Linked DNA regions of Homo sapiens: region 2 is linked to region 1. A link means that fine-mapping ties the variant in region 1 to the expression of a gene that starts in the linked region. Tissue or cell type: subcutaneous fat. Region 1 holds a variant in brackets; the other region holds the start of a gene. All regions are shown on one strand. Distances are from middle to middle. Region 1 holds the start of IGSF23 (immunoglobulin superfamily member 23). Region 2 holds the start of CEACAM19 (CEA cell adhesion molecule 19).

Region 1 (4,389 bases):
GATCTCTTCAGCTCAGCAAACCCGGAAGCAAGAAAAAATGCTTTTAGGCTGGGTGCGGTGTCTCACGCCTATAATCCCACCACTTTGGGAGGCCGAGGCAGGTGGGTCACTGGAGGCCAGGAGTTCAAGACCAGCCTGGGCAACATAGTGAAAGACTGTCTCTACTAAAAATATGAAAAAATTAGCTGGGCATGGTGGCACATGCCTGTAATCCCAGCTAATCCGGAGGCTGAGGCATGAGAATCTCTTAAACCCCAGAGGTGGAAGTTGCAGCGAGCAGAGATCACACCACTGCACTCCAGCTTGAGCAACACAGCAAGACTCTGTCTTTAAATAAATAAATAAAAATTTAAAAACAGAAAAAAGAAAAATTGCTTTATTCCCCAGAGTTCCAATAAAATCCGTAAGAGATTGCTTCTCCTTGGCCTGTTCTGAGTGCCACGCCCAGGTCTCCAAAAATCACTGTTGTCAGGGGATGAAGTGCTCTGATTGGCCAGTCCTGGGCCCCTCACCTCCCTGGAGCCATGAGGAGGCTGGTTTCCAAAAGAGAACTCCAGGTGCTGTTACCTGGATACAAGAGAGTACTGGCTGGGTAGAAACCCCAGAAACCTTACAACATAATGGTTATTAACTGCATCGTAAATATTTACTTTTTCCTACAGTGGTCTCCTGACCTAGCTAATCACTCCAGCAGAGGCCTTCAGACCAACTATAAAAAAGGCACTTTAGCAAATGCTAATAAAGAAATAACTGTGTCACCTGATAATGACTATTATTAGAGACTTATGGGTGAACCTTAGCCCCTGGGTGGAACCTGAACCTCTCTGGGAGGGAAAAGCATGAGCTTCTAAGTCAGAAAGATCTGAGTTCAAGTCTGAACACTCCCATTTCACTCACTTGCTCTTCATTCATTTATTCACTAAAAAGAAAACATGTAGGCTGGCTAGGTGGTTCATGCCTGTAATCCCAGCACTCTGGGAGGCTGAGGCAGGAGGATCACTTGAGCCCAGAAGTTTGAGACCAGCCTGGGTAATATAGTGAAACTCTATTTCTACAAAAAGAAAAAAAATTTAATTGGCTGGGAATGGTAGTGTGAGACTGTAGTCCCAGCTACTCAGGAGACTGAGGCAGGATTATTGCTTGAATCCAAAAGGTTGAAGCTGCAGTGAGCTATGACCGTGCCACTGCACTCCAGCCTGGCTGACAGAGTGAGACCCCGTCTCAAAAACAAAAACATGTATTGAGCACCTGTTATATGCAAGGCACTGTTCTAGTCACTAGGGACATAGCCACAAGCCAGACAACATCCCTGCCCTCCTGGATCTGATATTCAAGTCGGAGAGGTGGGACTAAGGAGGGAGAGACAGATAATACAAGTGGACAAATAAATAAATCATCTAAAATAGCGGTAAATGATGTAAAGAAAACAAAACAGTGTGGCTTGCTAGCAAAGAGGTGGGGAACTGAGTTGCAGCAGGCATTAAGAAAGGCCTTTTTGATAGAGTGATGTGTGTGAATTAAGCCAAAATAATAAGATACAGTCAGCTTTGAGATTACATGAGTAAGGTTCTAAGGAGAGGGAACGGCTCATGCAAAGCCCCTGAGCTGGTGCCTCCAAAAACTGGCAGAAAGCCCCTGTGAACGGTTGTGTGATGGTAGGTGAGTTACTTAGCCCCTGTGCACCACGAGAAAATGGGGATGCTCATATCTACCCCTCGAGGTTGCTATGAGGATTCAAATTAGGCAACCCTGTTACAAGGTTAATGCTGTGTCCGGCATATAGTAGGTGTTCAATAAACACCAGCTATTAGTTTGAGTAATATAATTATTAATTTGAGGAGGAAAGAATGGACCTGGGGAGTGAGAAGGGTGAGGAAAAAGTAGCTAGTGTAGCTTATCCTTCTAGAATCTAAAATTCAGGATATAGTCTGAGCAAGCTCCTGATAACGGGATTCTAAACATGCCTCCAGGACATCCTAGACACCAAATTATAATTAGCATTGACTTCATAGTGACTGCCATTCGTTGAGCGCCTACTACGTGACCAGGCACTACTCCAAGCACCTTGTGTCCACGGCCCTGTCTGACTCTGGGGCAGGCACTATTATTAACGCCTCCATTTTACAGAGGAGAAAAGCTGTGGTTCAGAGTCCAAAGCCCCGTCACCTCCTACCAGGTTGACCTTTGGCCATTCCTTGCCTTTGATGTGAGTGATAGGAGCGGGCGATTCTGCTTC[T/TA]CCCTCCATCTCCCGGCGGGGATTGTACGGTGAGAGAATGAGAGCAAAACCTCAGAGCCCCCTTCCCAGGAACCCTGTCCCAGCCTGGTCCCCACCCACCACCACCACTGACCCGATGCTAGAGAAGGATGCGGCTGGAGGTGACTTCCCAGCCAACTTGGTGTAAGTCATGTGGGGAAGTGGCCAGGGTAGGGCATGGTCATCGTGAGCAGGGTCCTGCAGGGTGAGGCCGGGGCTGCAGACGCGACTGTACAGGTCTATGAAGACCCCATGTGTGATGAGGAGACCTTCTCTGCACAGTCCCTGGACAGAACACGAGATGAGGGGTCCTCTGGACGTCAGCTCCAGCCACACCCCTACCTGGAGGAAGCTGCTTTTAACAGGTGCGTTGGAGACAGCGGCTTCACCACGGGCCAGGGACAAGGAGGAGAGTGTCTCCTTACGAGTCCAAGTCACCCCCACTCAGAGCTTTGACCCTGTCAGTTTGAGGCCCATGCAGCTCAGGCACCCAACTCATGAGAACTCTTGAAGGCCACTCCGCCACAAGAGATGACCCTATTGGCTTCTTTTAGGAAGAAGGGAAGTGAGGCGCAAAGAGGAGAACAGGTCACCTACCCAAGATCACAGGGCTGGCAAGGGGCAGGATCAGAATTTGGGACCCCAGCCCAGCCCCCTTCCACCAGAATGCCCTGTCTCACCCCTGCAATCCGCAACTTAGTAATAATACATATAAATAATAACAATCATAAAATAATAACAGCCGTAATAGAAGGTCACTGTAACTGAATAGATCTATATACCAGCCTGTTTGGGGTTTTTGTTTTTTTGTTTTGTTTTGTTTTGAGACAAGGTCTTGCTCTGTTGTCCAGGCTACAGTGCAGTGGCCCGATAATGACTCATTGCAGCTTCAACCTGCTGGGCTGAAGCTGTTCTCCTGCCTCAGCGTCCTGCGTAGCTGGGACCATAGGTATGCGCCACCAAACCCAGCTAATTTTTTATTTTTAGTAGAGATGAGGTCTTACTATGTTGCCCAGGCTAGTCTCGAACTCCTGGGCTCAAGCGATCCTCCTGCCTCGGCCTCCCCAAGTGCCAGGATTACAGGCGTGAGCCACTGCGCCCAGCCTGTCAGCCCGTTCTAAGTGCTTTCCTATAGTAACATTTACCTCTTATCACAACTCTTTGAGATCAGAGCTGTACGATCCCTATTTCACAGAAGGGGAAACTGAGGTTCAGAGAGGTCATGTGCCCTCTCCAGGTCACACACTTGGAAGTGGCAGACTGAAGATTTGAAGCCAGATGGGCTGGCTTCCCAGACCACACTTTCCAGAGACCACACACATCTGCCTCTCAGATAGTGAATGAATTGCTTCCTTATCCAGGTCTTAAAAGTTCACTTCTGAGTTGGGCGCGGTGACTCACACCTGTAATCCCAGCACTTTGGGAGGCCGAGGCAGGCGGATCACGAGGTCAGGAGATCGAGACCATCCTGGCTAACACGGTGAAACCCCGTCTCTACTAAAAATACAAAAAATTAGCCAGGCCTGGTGGCGGGCGCCTGTAGTCCCAGCTACTCAGAAGGCTGAGGCAGGAGAATGGCGTGAACCCGGGAGGCGGAGCTTGCAGTGAGCCAAGATCGTGCCACTGCACTCCAGCCTGGGCGACAGAGCACGACTCCGTCTCAAAAATAAATAAATAAAGTTCAGTTCTGAGCCGGGTGCAGTGGCTCACGGGTGCAGTGGCTGGGATTACAAAGTGCTGTAATCCCAGCACTTTGGGAGGCCAAGGCGGGCGGATCATCTGAGGTCAGGAATTCAAGACCAGCCTGACCAACATGGAGAAACCCCGTCTCTACTAAAAACAGAAAATTAGCTGGGCGTGGTGGTGCATGCCTGTAATCCCAGCTACTTGGGAGGCTGAGGCAGGAGAATTGCTTGAACCCAGGAGGCGGAGGTTGCGGTTAGCTGAGATGGTGCCATTGCACTCCAGCCTGAGCAACAAGAGCGAAACTCCATCTTTAAAAAAAAAAAAAAAAAGTTCAGTTCCATGTAATTTTAAAACCTCAAAGTCCACCTAGTTCAAAGCTTTGCTCTGTCCCCAGCTCAGGCAGGTGTCACACTGGAAGGAGGAAAGGGACGTGGTGGGCCTCTTCCCTA
Region 2 (4,389 bases), 58 kb after region 1:
AATTTGTTTTGTGTAAAGTTGGGGTCCTACTATGTTGCCCAGCCTGGTCTCCAATTCCTAGGCTCAAGCAATCTTCCCACCTCAGCCTCTCAGAGGGGTAGGATTACAAGTGTGGGTCACCTGTGCCTCCCTAAATTTATATTTAAATAGCCACATATGACTAATAGCTATGATATTAAACAGCATAACACTAGACCCTCCATTATCCAAGCTCTGTTGATCCAACCAACAGAGCACATTTGATCTCTCCTACCTCCCAGCCTCACACACACAGGCCCCACACCCTCCTTCCTGGCTCCACTCACCCAAGATATTGCAACCTCCTCAATACACCTTGATGACTATCTCAGCCTCCACATCCTTGCATTGCTATTTATGCTGCCTGGTGCACCTCATGCTGCCTCACCCCATCATCTGCCTCATTTCTACTCTTACTCCAGGTCTCAGCTCAGATGCCCCCTCCCCCAGGAAGCCCTCCCTAGCCGTCAGGTTGAATGAGGTGTGTCTCCTTGGGCTCTCCCAGACTCCTGGGCTCCTCCATCCCAGCCCTGATCACTCTGGATCATAATTGTGTGAGAGGGGTCTGCCCCCCCAAACCCTACAGGATTGTGTGCCCTACTGTGGACAGAGGGCAGAGCAGAGGTGGTCTCAATCATCACTGTGTCACCAACATCACCCAGCACACACAACTGGGCACTGGGAATGTGTGCTGGAATGAATGGAGGATGCTTTTTAAAAACTAGGCTAAGCCAGGTATGGTGAGTCACATCTGTAATCCCAGTACTTTGGGAGGCTAAGGTGGGAGGATCACTTGAGCCCAGGAGTTCAACACCAGCCTGGGGCAACATAGTGAGATCCCATCTCTACAAAACATATAAAAATTGACCAGGGATGGTAGCACACAACTGTGGTCCCAGCTACTCAGGAGGCTGAGACGGGAGGATTGCTTGAGCCCAGGAGTTGGAGGCTGCAGTGAGCAATGATCATGCAACTATACTCCAGCCTGGGCAACAGAGCGAGACCCTGTCTTAAAAAAAAAAAAAAAGAATAACACACTTGGAATAAACATGATCCAAAAAAGTACAAAACATACACTCTGGGGCTGGGTGCAGTGGCTCATGCCTATACTCCTAGTACTTTGGGAGGCCGAGGCAGGAGGATCATCTGAGGTCAGGAGTTTGAGACCAGCCTGGCCAACATGGCAAAACCCCATCTCTACTAAAAATACAAAAATTAGCCAGGCATGGTGACGCATGCCTGTAATCCCAGCTACTCAGAAGGCTGAGGCAGAAGAATCACTTGAACCTGGGAGGCGGAGGTTGCAGTAAACTGAGATTGTGCCACTGTACTCCAGCCTGGGTGACACAGCATCTAAAAAAGAAACCAATCCAAAAACTACAAAATATTCTTGCAATTATAGGTGACATATTTAAATGGTAAGACAACCAATGTTCATGAATGGAAAGACAGAGCAAGACCCTGTCTCAAGAAAAAAAAAAAAAAAAAAAAAAAAAAAAAACAGGCTGAGCGCGGTGGCTCACACCTGTAATCCCAGCACTTTGGGAGGCCAAGGTGGGCAGATCACCTGAGGTCAGGAGTTCAAGACCAGCCTGACCAACATGGAGAAACCCTGTCTCTACTAAAACTACAAAAGTAGCCGGGCGTGGTGGCGCATGCCTGCATTTCCAGCTACTCCCTGAGGTGGGAGGATCGCTTGAACCCAGGTGGCAGAGGTTGCGGTGAACTGAGATTGCGCCATTGCACTCCAGCCTGGGCAACAAGAGCGAAACTCCATCTCAAAAGAAAAAAAAAGAAAAACACGAGGCTAAGAGCTTTTTTTTTTTTTTGAGACGAAGTCTCGCTCTGTCACCCAGGCTGGAATGCAGTGGCGCGATCTCGGCTCCCTGCAACCCCTGCCTCCCAAGTTCAAGTGATTCTCCTGCCTCAGCCTCTCCAGTTGCTGGGATTACAGGTGCCCACCACCACGCCTGACTAACTTTTGTATTTTTAGTAGAGACAGGGTTTCACCATGTTGGCCAGGCTGGTCTCAAATTCCTCACCTCGTGATCTACCCACCTTGGCCTCCCAAAATGCTGGGATTACAGGCGTGAGCCACCGCACCCAGCCTGCCTCAGAGCCTTCAAGTGAGTCAGCCACAGGTGAAATCCCACCTCTGTCTATTGGCAGACTTGCCTCTTTTCCTGGGCCTCTGTTTCCACATCTGTGCAATGGGAACAGTTATTTATGGTGGCTGCTGAATGAGGCAGTGTGTGTTTGAACAAACCCAGGGGAATTGTTCAAACAGAGGCTGTTATGACTATTGCTACAGTGACTGCTGTTGTAGTCACGCTGAGTGAGAAAAAGAGGTTGAAGAGGGTCAGGGGAGGAGTCCTGGGAAGTTCCCCAGTCACCCTGAAAAACTGGTTCAACCTCTGTCTGTGCTCCCATCCCAGGGAGTATAGGTGGAGCCTCCAGAGCCCATGGACAGGGCATGCTGGGGCTGGGCCAGCCCCAGCGGTGTCTCTAAGGCACCCCTGGGATCCCCACTGAGCTGGCCTACTTCAGACAGCCAGGGCCCACCCCTCTGGCCCCCTTAGTGTCCAGCTCGTGGCCCCTTGGCATTTCCACAAGACGCCAAGATGGAGATTCCCATGGGGACCCAGGGCTGCTTCTCAAAGAGCCTCCTGCTCTCAGGTAAGGAGGAAATAGACCCTAAAGGCCAAGGGGAGAAATGGGGACTCAGCCCAGAGATTGAAGTTTCCTCTTAGAAGTAGGGAAAGATTACCTGAGAGGATGAAATTAGAATAAGATGGGGGAGGGGCAACAGAATCACAGCCTCATTGCCATTTTATCTATGGAATTTTCTATAATGTTAGGACCATGAAGGCAGGAATTTATGTATGTTTGGTTCCCTGCTATATCTCCAGTGTCTAGAAATTGAAGGAAGTTTAGATGTATTACATATAGTTGGTATTATAGCTTATATATTACATATGCCTATAAGTATTGGTTGAATAAATGAATGAATGAATGAATTCAGAGAGTCCATGTGTTTAGAAGCAGGCCACACAGCATCTCAAGGTAGAAAAACCTCTGGATCAACAGGATGGCAAATCTGTGGTAACCATGCCTGTGTTCCCACTCCTGCACCCAGGGCAGACATCACTAATCAATCCCAGCATTGTTTCCAATGAGCAGCACTCAGAGTCCTTGCTCCCCGCTGAAGATCTGTATCTAGAGAGGAGCATGCCATGGTCCCTGGCAACACCCCTGATCTCAGCCCTTCCCTGTAACTTCCCACAGCCTCAATCCTGGTCCTCTGGATGCTCCAAGGCTCCCAGGCAGCTCTCTACATCCAGAAGATTCCAGAGCAGCCTCAAAAGAACCAGGACCTTCTCCTGTCAGTCCAGGGTGTCCCAGACACCTTCCAGGACTTCAACTGGTACCTGGGGGAGGAGACGTACGGAGGCACGAGGCTATTTACCTACATCCCTGGGATACAACGGCCTCAGAGGGATGGCAGTGCCATGGGACAGCGAGACATCGTGGGCTTCCCCAATGGTTCCATGCTGCTGCGCCGCGCCCAGCCTACAGACAGTGGCACCTACCAAGTAGCCATTACCATCAACTCTGAATGGACTATGAAGGCCAAGACTGAGGTCCAGGTAGCTGGTAAGTGTTAGGGTCTGGGGATGAGGTGAGGAAGCTAATGAGCCCTGAGCAGCTACCATGCACCAGGTGCTGTGCAAACACCATTTCATTTGGTCCTCTCATTTATTCACTTGACACATATTGAGCATCTACTGTGTACCAATCCCCAGAGATAGTCTTTAACCCTCACATGCATTAACTAATAAAATATCTATGAAATGCCCGCCTTGTGCCTGACACTGGAGAATGCACCATCTCATTTACCTTTCACATGCACTAACATTAACCAAATTTTTATCGAGCACTTACTGTATGCCTGGTTGTGAGGAATGCATCCCTCAATCTTTATGTTTATAAAGCGAGTATTTACTGATGAATCCACTCGGGGCAAAGTGTGAGGGAAAGGGTGGTGGGCAATAATGACAGCTGGCATTTCTTGGGTGATCGTTAAGAGCCAGGCACCATCTTAAACATTTTCCCTAAAGCATAGTTTCTCAGCTTCAGCACTACTGATGTTTTGTATTGGCCAGTTCTTACTAGTAGAGGGTTTGTGCATTGCAGAGATTTCAGCAGCACCCCGGCCTCTACTCACTAGGTACCAGTAGCAGCTTCCTAGTCATGCCAACCAAAAATGTCTTCAGATATTACCAAATGTCTCCACCCTGGGATAAGAATCACCCCTGGTTGAGAACCATTACTCTATATTTACTCATTTTTACCTTAAAACAACTCCATGAG

Evidence for each region.
Region 2: CEACAM19 starts here. The variant in region 1 is fine-mapped to the expression of CEACAM19 in subcutaneous fat (GTEx, PIP 0.92). The same link has a PIP of 0.9 or more in fibroblasts, thyroid, tibial artery, tibial nerve and whole blood.

What each region holds. Positions count from the first base shown.
Region 1 is chr19:44,611,373-44,615,761 of GRCh38, forward strand. It overlaps IGSF23 (immunoglobulin superfamily member 23), which reads left to right and starts at 2,191. Exons shown (of 5, transcript NM_001205280.2): 1 at 2,191-2,398. The coding sequence starts at 2,274. RefSeq lists an enhancer at 3,603-4,104. The variant T/TA (reference allele first, on the strand shown) is at 2,237.
Region 2 is chr19:44,669,293-44,673,681 of GRCh38, forward strand. It overlaps CEACAM19 (CEA cell adhesion molecule 19), which reads left to right and starts at 2,190. Exons shown (of 8, transcript NM_001127893.3): 1 at 2,190-2,694; 2 at 3,304-3,672. The coding sequence starts at 2,640.